2 linked regions of the Homo sapiens genome follow. The protein of the gene in region 1 interacts with the protein of each later gene in a biochemical or structural test. Each region holds a gene or a part of one and is shown in the gene's direction. Other genes may lie near its edges.

Region 1 (3,100 bases):
CTGTGGAGACCTTCACGGCACTTCACTCTGGGGGACCCCGCATTATTCCACAAGCCTGTGGGGTCCCCCAAGCAGCAGCGACCCCCGAGGAATTAGCAGCCCATCTCCCATTAACGCTTTTCTTTCTGTTGACCACCTGGGTGGGGGTGGAGAGTCCATGTAACAGTGTAGATGCAGACTCACCGACCGGGACCTCAGACGCGAGGGAAAGGAGCACTAAGTGGGGCTCGCCGCCTGCAGCCAGGGGCCGCCTGTGGGAACAGCTATTCTCTGCACATTTTCCACTTTGTTTTCCCCAAAACATATCAGTTTGAATACTTGAATCATGCAGGCCAATATTATAATGTGAAAAGGTATCTACTCTATTTACACTCCCAAATAGCGCCATACATGCTAAACCGTAGAGAATGAGCTCGCTTGTGTCTATTCATCATGTTTAGCCTTTGGATTCTTTTTTTTTTTTTCCTTCTATTCCTCCCCAACCCCCCCCCCCGCCCCTTTTTTTCTCTCTTGCAAAACCATTTTTTGGGCTGATAACGTATGAGCTTTTCCCTTTGCACTGAATGATGTTCTCTCCGTCTCATCGGCAGTATGGGGGGCAGCTGTCCCAGTGTCAATGTTTACTCAAGGGTGTTCTTAGGAGGCGTGCGCTCTCTACTATGCCTTGATGTTGCCTACCTTATTGTGGTATCGTGGAGTTTAAAAGATCAAGTTAGGATGCTGACTTAGGATTATTAATGAAAGTGTTGCACCAGTTTTTTCATGTTGTAAAACTAAAGAATTTCGCTCTGCAGTTTGAAAAACTGTGGCCACAGCTGTGACTTGCAGCCCACCTGCCACCCAGGACGGGCCCTGCACTTTGAATAGGCTTTCCATTTTGTTTTGGAGGTTCTCACTTTGAACCTTCTTGTTTACAGATTTTTTTGTTTGTTTTTTGAGAAAAAAAAATGTTTACTCTTCCATCATTTAAAAAAAATGTAAAAGACAAAAAAAAAATGGAGGATGATTTAAAAGATGCTTTCTATCTCTGGGAAAAAGGAGCAGCATTTGGCCATGTTCTTTTGTTTTTCTATTCCTGTCCCAAATCAAAGAGCATGGTTCTCAGGAAAACCAGTTCCCCAGTTTAAAAAAAAAAAAAAAAATTCCTTGTAGTTTCTTAGAGGAAAAAAAGAAAAACCCCAACTTTTAGCACTGATACTACATATTGCTCTGTTAAAGAATTTTCTCTGCCAAAAAAAAAGAAAAAACAAAAAAACGCTTAAAGCTGGAGTTTGACATTCTGCTTTCAGATGCTGTCTTTTTATTAGTGAGTGATGATGGTTTGCTAATAATCAATAGGTAATAATTTTTTGTAATCCCATCAAGTGGCTCCATATGTTTCTGCTCTCTCGTGACTGTGTTAATGTTTAACTGTTGTACCTTAAAGCCGAAATCAGTAACTATGCATACTGTAACCAAGGTATTGGGCTTACAGAGTTGTTTGTTGTATAAAGAAAATTTTAAATGTTGTTGCAAACTAACGAGTTACACCATTTTAAACTTTCTTTCCTCCCCCCTTTTTTTGCCCACAAATGGTATTATAATGCTTGCTTAGTCAAAGAAGAGAGACTAAACAAGGGTAAAAATTTTAACAGTACAGAATTTGCCATCATATCATTGCCTTGATTCTAACTGTTTGTGTCCTAAGATGCAAAAGAAGTCAGTGGCTTTTAACTGTTTACAAATAGAATGTGATTGTAAAATGTACAGTTTGGTTGTGTTTGAATTATGAAATTTCTTCAGATATAATAAACCATGACTTTTTGGCTGCTCAACATTAATTGTCTCCTTTTTGTGAATTTATTTGTAGGCTCTTTTTTATAATGAAAGTTTCAAAGTTGCTATGTATGAGGGTTCTCATAGAGCAACCGATTAAAAATCTAAGCAAATATTTGAACATTTTATCTGAACTCATCACAATTTCACCCTGAAATAATGTGAGAACAATGGGAAACTGTAGCTTGCTCCTTCCCACCCTCTCTGAGCATCTTTGGGATCTTGTTGCTCAAAACTCTTCTGTGACTTCATCTTCCCCACCATTTGTGCCCATCTCAAGCCTCAGCAAGAAACCATGTGGAACATGAAGCTTAATGACTTGACAGTGTACTAGTGTTAAACTCTCATACCTCTGTTACAAAGCGAGAAACGCCACACCCGGACTGGCCTTTTCTTCCCCCTTCACGGCCCTCGCTTCTCCCTGCAGGAGCTCGGGGGCGAAACCTGTGTATGGATTTCAGTGTATGACTTCAGATCATGCTCCAACTTGCCAGGTGTGAGCTAATGTTGTCGGACACCTTACTATAAGCAAATGTTATTCAGTGCGTTCAATGTATATTGACTTCCATACTGGTTTTTCCAAAAACCAAAGGTAGCTTTGAAAAACCATGTCTGGAAATGTTTGGAGCGTTAAGCTGATTGACCTTCTGACCTTGGGGCTTTGAGTAGTATATAATTCATAACTGCGTTAATTGTATTGTTAAAGTGTTTGGGAGTTTTTTGCGCTTGTTATGTGGAAATAAAGTGTTTGATTTAAAATTTTTTAAAGTGGTTTGGATCTTTGCCTAGTCCTTAAATAAATACAGCTCTATTCCCTAAGCCACCCTTACTTCTCGGTCTTAATCCCGACTGCCAGTGCCTGGATGCTGCCCTTTGTCTGGCACAGACCTGCAGCTGACCATGCTGGGCCCATGGCTCGGGGCTTTCTAGTCACGCAGAGCCACCAAGAGTCAGGGTAAACTTTTTAACACAGGCACTTAACACGTTTTTTCTTTGTTTTCTTTTTTCCTTTTCTCTTTCTACTTTCTTCCTTTTTCTTTTTTCTTTCTTTTTCTTTCTTTTTTTTTTTTTCTTTCGACAGGGTTTCACTCTGGATATCAGTTCACTGTCACCTCTGCCTCCCAGGCTCAAACGGTTCTCGTCCCTCAGCCTCTCAAGTAGCTGGGATTACAGGCACCTATCACCGAATCCGGCTAAGTTTTGTATTTTTAATAGAAATGGGGTTTCACTGTGTTGCTCAGGCTGGTCTCAAATTCCAAAGCTCAAGCGATCTGCCCATCTCAGC
Region 2 (7,554 bases), on another chromosome or scaffold:
CTTTTTGCCTCTCAAAGCTATACCCCTACCCCACCCCAAACCTAATTTCCTCACTTCCTCCTGCTTGAGGAAAAAGCAAAACAGAGAAACATCCATTCATCTCCCAATAGGATGGTGAGCTGTTTGCAATGAAGTTTGATTCCTACCTGATGCCCCCTATTAGGAATAAACGGGCTTCTTTTTCTCAGTTGGAAACAACATTATTTCAACTGGATGGTCCTGGTTTCATGGGAGAGAATGCGCATGAAGGAACTTGGAGAACTGGGAAGCCAGTATGAGGTCTTATTGCTCCCCATTTCAGGCCTCACAGTGGAGGTTAGAAAGGCTCTTGTGGGAAGAGGGTTATTGACTAAGAACCACCTGACTCCTCAACCCTAGTGGCCCAAGATTTCATAGGCTCTATAAGAGTTGGATGATGTTTTTTTCAGGACTAGTGCAAATAAGGCCTGGAAGTTCAACTTAGACATTCCAGCACCTAGTCCCATGGCCTCATTCTGACGTCATCCAAATTGTTCTGGGACCCTCCACTGGGGTCGGGGCAGTCCCAGCTTTGGACCCCATGGCTAGGAAGCCCAGGAGTTCTGGGTAGTCGAAGGTGCACTGTCAATGACTCTGGCTGGTCCTTCAGCTTGTTGCATCCATGGGTAAAATCCACTGACACCGATTTCATCACCCTCCATGATGCAACATCGAGTGAAACAGCTAAGAGTGTGAGGTTGGGCGTGGGAGTGGAAGGTGGTCCAAAGCCGGGACTGCCCCGACCCCAGTGGAGGGTCCCAGAACAATTTCGAAGACGTCAGAATGAGGCCATCGGTGACCACACAGCTGGCTCCCAAAGCCTCCCCCAAGAGGTTGACCCTTTTCTTCTGAGAAACTTGTCCTGAATGGAGGTCTCCCTTCCCTTAGAGCTATTCAAAACTGCCCAATGACACTTCTGGTTCAAATATTATGATTCTGTAGGTATGAGCTAAGAGAAGAAAAAAAAATATTACGATTCTAAGTTAAATCTACCAAGGGCCGGGTACAGTGGCTCACGCCTGTAATCCCAGTACTTTGGGAGGCCGAGGCAGGCGGATCATGAGGTCAGGAGTTCGAGACCAGCCTGGCCATCATGGTGAAATCCTGTCTCTACTAAAAATACAAAAATGAGCCAGCACGGTGGTGGGCGCCTATAGTCCCAGCTACTCGGGAGGCTGAGGCAAGAGAATCGCTTGAAGCCAGGAGGCAGAGGTTGCAGTGAGCCGAGATGGCGCCACTGCACTCCAGCCTGGGTGACAGAGCAAGACTCTGTCTCAAAAAAAAAAAAAAAAAAATGGAAATCTACCCTTTAGATTAAACATTTCCAGCATCAGAGAATTATCTGAGTTTGGGTGAGAACTGTTTTGCCTCTCTCCCTAATAAGGTGGACACCAATGGAATAAGGAAAGGGGAGGGGGCAGGATAGGGAGTTCACCTTACTTGTGTACAACGTCTCCTATGTTCTTCCCATCTCTGGTCCCCATTCTGGGAGCCCTAAAAGATAAGAGATGAAAGAAAGATGAAAAGGAGGAGGAAGTAGAGCCTGGGGGATGGGATGAGAGGGACAAGGGTGAGTTGGAGGCACAGGGCTCTGCCTCTTTGTTTCACTTCCTGGTGCTGCAGGAGTTGGGTAGGAAGAAGGGTTGGTGGGGAGATTGTGGGACTGTTGCGTGGCAGGAACTACATCCAGGGCTACAACTGACCTGGAGCTATAAGGAGCCCTTGACGTCAGCTGGGCCTAAACCGTTATGCAAATCGCATTCACAAGACACTCCTAGGCAGGTCTTTCCAGTTGTATGCCTAGACTCCAAATCAGTTGAAGTTCCCCCAGGTGGTTAATAATGATGGCTAATATATCCAACTCTCGCTTAATGCCAAATACTTTGTCTAAGCACTTTACATGTACTAAACTATTTAATTTTCACAACAACCCTTTAAGGTAGATACTATTACCCTATATTACAGAGGAGGAGGCTGAGGTGCAAAGATAAGCAATTTGCCCAAGATCACAGAGCTTCTAAGTGGCTAGAATTCCTTTTTTTTTTTTTTTTTTTTTGAGATGGAGTTTCGCTCTTGTTGCCCAGGCTGGAGTGCAATGGTGCCATCTCATCTCACCGTAACCTCTGCCTCCCGGGTTCAAGTGATTCTCCTGCCTCAGCCTCCCAAGTAGCTGGGATTACAGGCATGCACCACCATGCCCGGTGGCTAATTTTGTATTTTTAGTAGAAACAGGGTTTCTCCATGTTGGTCAGGCTGGTCTTGAACTCCCAATCTCAGGTGATCCACCCGCCTGCGGCCTCCAAAAGTGCTGGGATTACAGGCATGAGCCACCACACCCAGCTTAAGTGGCTAGAGTTCTAATGCAGACAATCTAGCATCAGATCCTGCATTCTTTTTTGTTCTTGGTTTTTGGGGGGTTTTGTTGAGACAGGGTCTCACTCTGTCACCCAGGCTGGAATGCAGTGGCACCATTTCCGTTCACTGCAACCTCCACCCCTGGGACTACAGGCACAAGCCACCATCCCGGTCTGGATCCTGAATTTTTAATCACTGCATTACACTGGATACTGTACGCCAGGTATGGTGGCTCATGCCTGTAATCCCAGAACTTTGGGGGGCCGAGGCAGGAGGATCGCTTGAGCTTAAGAGTTCAAGACCAGCCTGGGTAACGTGGCAAAACCCCACCTCTACAGGAAAAAAAAAATTATCTGGGTTTGGTGGCCAGTGCCTGTAGTTACAGCTAGTTGGGAGGCTGAAGTGGGAGGATCGCTTGAGCCCAGGAGGTTGAGGCTACAGTGAGTGAGAGGGCCAATGCGCTTAAGCATGGGCAACAGAGTGAGATCCTGTCTCAAAAAAAAAAAAAAAAAAAGGCTGGGCGCGGTGGCTCACACCTGTAATCCCAGAACTTTGGGAGGCCGAGGCAGGCAGATCACCATCTAATATTACTGTATTAGAAACAGTAATTACAGCTGAGCTAAATAATCTATGTCATGGATGCTCTTGTGTCTCCTCACAGTATCCTTTTTTCTTTTCTTTTTTTTTTTCTTTTTTTTGAGACGGAGTTTCGCTCTTACTGACCAGGCTGGAGTGCAATGGTGCCATCTCGGCTCACTGCAACCTCCGCCTCCCAGGTTCAAATGATTCTCCTGCCTCAGCCTCCCAAGTAGCTGGGATTACAGGCTCCCGTCACCAGGCCCGGCTAATTTTGTATTTTTAGTGGAGACGGGGTTTCTCCATATTGGTCAGGTTGGTCTCGAACTCCCGACCTCAGGTGATCCGCCCACCTCGGCCTCCCAAAGTGCTGGGATTACAGGCGTGAGCCACTGCGCCCGGCAGACATGGATTATTTAGCCCAGGTTATTAGGGATCTGTAACTCTCATGGGTCTGTTAAGTCTTTCTCAATTTGAGACCTCAAGATGGAGATTTCTTAAAGTGTAGGAACTGTCTATGTCTCTCAGCATCCACCTTTTTCGGAGATTCTATATCTAATGACCTGCGAAGTCAGATCAAATCAGTTTGAGAGACCATCTGTGTTTTTCTCTTGGTCTAGGCTCTAGGTAGGATCTCTGACTGGGTATAGGACCCCACCCCTCTGAGTCCTAGAAATTTAAATTCTTGGTTCCTTTAATGAAGGTCTATTTACCAGCCTTTATTGAGAGAAATGTTATAGAATTGAATCCTCCATGAGGAATGTCTCCCATCAGAGTCCCTTTATGTGGCCTTTAGAAACAGTAATAACAGCTGAGCTAAAGTGCTCTGAGACATCTCACAACCTAGACCCATTTCAAAGTAATTAGAGTTCACAGGACCCACGAATCCTTCAGAATAACAAGTCCCAATTTGCCATGCTCATCCCCCTCTGAGGGATAACGTCCAGCCAGCCTCAAGAGCTAGGGGAATTTGATAACCAGGGGCATCTTGTTACCCGGGAATGTTACCGGGGTCTCTGGGGAGGGAACAATCACGGATGGGAGTTTCAGATGGATGCCTGTAGAAGATGCAGCCACTTGGACTGTGTCAGGAGTCCGGCTCCCGCTTCCTTTTTTTTCTCTCCCATATCTGGAAATAATAGGAAATGCCAGCGAGTTTTGGGGGCAACAGGGTCAGAGGTGGCGGAGTGGCTCACTAGGGCACCGCAGGAAGAGGAGGTAGACTAAGCCCCGCTGGGAATACCCAACAGCGACTCCTAGTGCTTTGCCTTGTGTGTCCCTTATTTTAGAGTTCCTAAAGTTATAGAAAGCATAAAAGTTTGGTTTTCAAACCTAGACGTAATTTTGTTCAAGAAGACTAAAAACAGAGTTACTTTCTAACGCCACCCAACAAGTCCGGCGTCTGGCTGCGTTTGTCCCACCGGCGCCCCGTAACCTCTTTTTCCGGCGCGTGCGTCACACGCTCTCTCCTGGGGTCGCCGTACCTGGCTCCTTCTGATTGGCTTAGATGCGCCCGGAGCCCTTCTGATTGGCTAAAATATGCCCCGAGCCCTTCTTGATTGGAAGAAGCGCCTCGGACCCCGGTCCTTGGCGCCGTAGTGGTTAGGTTGAGCCCTAGGCGTGGGGGAGAACTGGGGAAACTGGAATTTCCCGCGGAGCTGACAGCGCTTGCGCTCCCCCTACTCGTTCTAATTCCACGCGCTCCAAAATATCCGCCATGGAGAAATCTTGGTAATGACCCATTCCCCGTAAGCATCCCAGGAACACATCTGACCCTTGCCCTATCCCCCTCCTCACCGCTGCCGTGGGAGAATTCTAGATAACCGATTTTTCTGGTTCCCCCAGAGAATTCTGGGTAACTAGCCGTTTCCGTCACCTTCCCCTGCCCCCGCCCCAATTGTGGGTAACTGGCCATTATTGTTTTCCTCTAGAGAATCCTGGGTAGCTATTGGAGAGGATTCTAGGAAACTGACTTCTCGTTCTCCCCACCGTCCAATCCACCCGTTTTCACCCCCAATTCTGGGAGAAAGCACCTTAAATCCCTCTACCTAACTCCAACCCCCGCAATTCTCGCTCCCTTCACCTGATGATTCAGGGCTGAACAAGGCAAGTGAGCAGTCCGAAGTGAGAAGAAAGGGAAGTCAAGGATTAGGTTAGATAATGGGGTGGTGGAGAGTACAGAGGGCCTAGCGGAGGAGGGATAGGGACAACAGTTCTACCACCTCCACCCCCACTGCCCATCCCTCCCCCGCCTGCTTCATCCTTTGGCTGGCAGTCTCATCCCTCATGCCTGCCTCATCTCCCTCCTGCCCCCATAACCTAGAAGACCCTAAGTACCAGTACCTGGGCCTACCCTTGACTCAGCTACCTCTTTCCCCTTACAGGCCAGGATGTCCATTCTAGGCCCATCGGTGCTGTCTTGCTGAAGGTTGGGTCAGGCATCTAAAGGGACTGTGGTAAGGGAGGGTGTGACACAGGTGTAAGCTGCCATCGTCATCATGAACTTTGAGGGTCTGGACCCTGGACTGGCAGAATATGCCCCAGCCATGCATTCTGCCCTGGACCCTGTCTTGGATGCCCACCTGAACCCAAGTCTGCTACAGAATGTGGAGCTGGACCCAGAGGGAGTGGCCTTGGAGGCTCTTCCCGTCCAGGAATCAGTGCACATAATGGAAGGTGTCTACTCTGAATTGCACAGCGTGGTGGCTGAAGTGGGTGTACCTGTTTCCGTCTCCCACTTTGACTTGCACGAGGAGATGCTGTGGGTGGGGAGCCACGGGGTAAGAACTGTACCCCTTTGTGAGGGTTGAAAGATGTTGAAGGTCTTTATCTGGTCTTAACCCAAGGAAGCTGCTTTGCAGATAGCCAGTACCGAGGAGTTGTAGTGATGAGACAGCTGGGTCTGGTTGGAGGGATAAAGGGAGAATCTAGGATCTAGGAGTAAATGACATATTCTTTCTCAGGAGGCATCCCTTTTTTTTTTTTTTTTTTTCGAGACAGGGTCTTGCTCTGTCGCCTAGGCCAGAGTGCAATGGCGTAATGTGATCATGGCTCACTGCAGCCTCAATCTCCTGGGCTCACACAATCCTCCCACTTTAGCATCTCAAGTAGCTGGGACTACAGGCATGCGCAACCAAGACCAGCTAATTTTTAAAAAATTTTTTAGTCTTACTATGTTGCCCAGGCTTGTCTCAAACTCCTGAGCTCAAATGGTCCTCCTGCATAGAGCTGCCAAAGTGCTGGGGTTACAGGTGTGAGCCACGGCACCTGGCCAGCATCCCACTTTTGTCACAATTGCCCATCCAGTGTTTTGATTTATCTTGATAGTTGTACCCATCACTTAGTCTGTAGCCATCCAAATCTAATCTCAATTGCTGTTGCCCCACCTGTGTTTTCTATTTTTATTATTATAGAATATTTAATGAATGATTCTGCATATCTTCCATTGAATCATTTTGTCTTCTCTGGCTGATTTTAATATCTCTCAGAGCAGTTATCAATCTTAATTTTTTAAAATCTGTACCCGTATTGCCAATATGCTATGGTGCCCAAAGACTTTGTAAGAAATACTGTGCTGTCCGGCCGGGACCGGTGGCTCACTCCTGTAATCCCAGCACTTTGGGAGGCTGAGGCAGGCGGATCACGAGGTCAGGAGATCGAGACCATCCTGGCTAACATGGTGAAACCCTGTCTCTACTAAAAATGCAAAAAATTAGCTGGGCATGGTGGCAGGCGCCTGTAGTCCCAGCTACTCGGAAGGCTGAGGCAGGAGAATCGCTTGAACCTGGGAGGCAGAGGTTGCAGTGAGCCGAGATCACGCCACTGCACTCCAGCCTGGGTGACAGAGCGAGACTCCGTCTCAAAAAAAAACAAAAAACAAAAAAAAAAAAAACGCTGTCCTTCATTTACTGATTGACTTCTTTGGTCATGAATTGTTTTTCCATTAGAAGGGATGAATTTTTGTGTGTGATTCATTCAGTTTAATAGGCAGTGTCTACTGCTATGCTAGGCACTGTGAATAAAGCTAAATAAAACATAATCCTTGCCCTCAAGGAGTTTACAGGACAGTGAGGTAAAAAACATATACAAAACCAGATAATTTCATGGTACTAAGCGCCAGTGTGAAAATCTGTACTGGATGCTGGACAGGATGGAGAATAGTCAGAAAGGGCATCGAGGAGGAAGTAACCCTTGAACTGAGTCTTGCAACATGAGTAGAAATCAGGTGAGAAAGATGGGAAAAGGCGTCTTAGCATAGGATAAACAAAGATTCCCAAGATACTACAAAGCTTGCTGAGTACAAAATTCAGGAACTACAAGCAATTAGGATTTACCGGACTGGAAGAGGTAGACATTTATTCATTCAACCAGTGTTTTTTTGAGCCACATGCTAGGTGTCAGACCTTGCCCTAAGGTCTAGGTTTGGAATAAGCAGTAAACAGAAAAACATTACAATACATCAGGTGTTGATTAGTACTGTTAAGAAAAATGCTGGCTGGGCATGGTGACTCACACCTGTAATCCCAGCACTTTGGGAGGCCGAAGCAGGCGGATCACCTGAGGTCAGGAATTCAAGACCAACCTGGCCAACATGGTGAAACCCCC

The links. The genes of interacting proteins can lie anywhere in the genome.
Region 2: the proteins of TNRC6A (region 1) and PAN2 form a complex in vitro, tested with the Homo sapiens proteins (one study listed by BioGRID).

What each region holds. Positions count from the first base shown.
Region 1 is NC_000016.10:24,823,645-24,826,744, forward strand, and holds the end of TNRC6A (trinucleotide repeat-containing gene 6A protein), read left to right. Parts: coding exon 1-163; 3' UTR 164-2,574; downstream 2,575-3,100.
Region 2 is NC_000012.12:56,330,988-56,338,541, reverse strand, and holds the start of PAN2 (PAN2-PAN3 deadenylation complex catalytic subunit PAN2), read left to right. Parts: upstream 1-4,541; 5' UTR 4,542-4,680; intron 4,681-4,823; exon of another isoform or gene 4,824-5,055; intron 5,056-5,333; 5' UTR 5,334-5,447; coding exon 5,448-5,729; intron 5,730-7,554. UniProt on the Homo sapiens protein: Catalytic subunit of the poly(A)-nuclease (PAN) deadenylation complex, one of two cytoplasmic mRNA deadenylases involved in general and miRNA-mediated mRNA turnover.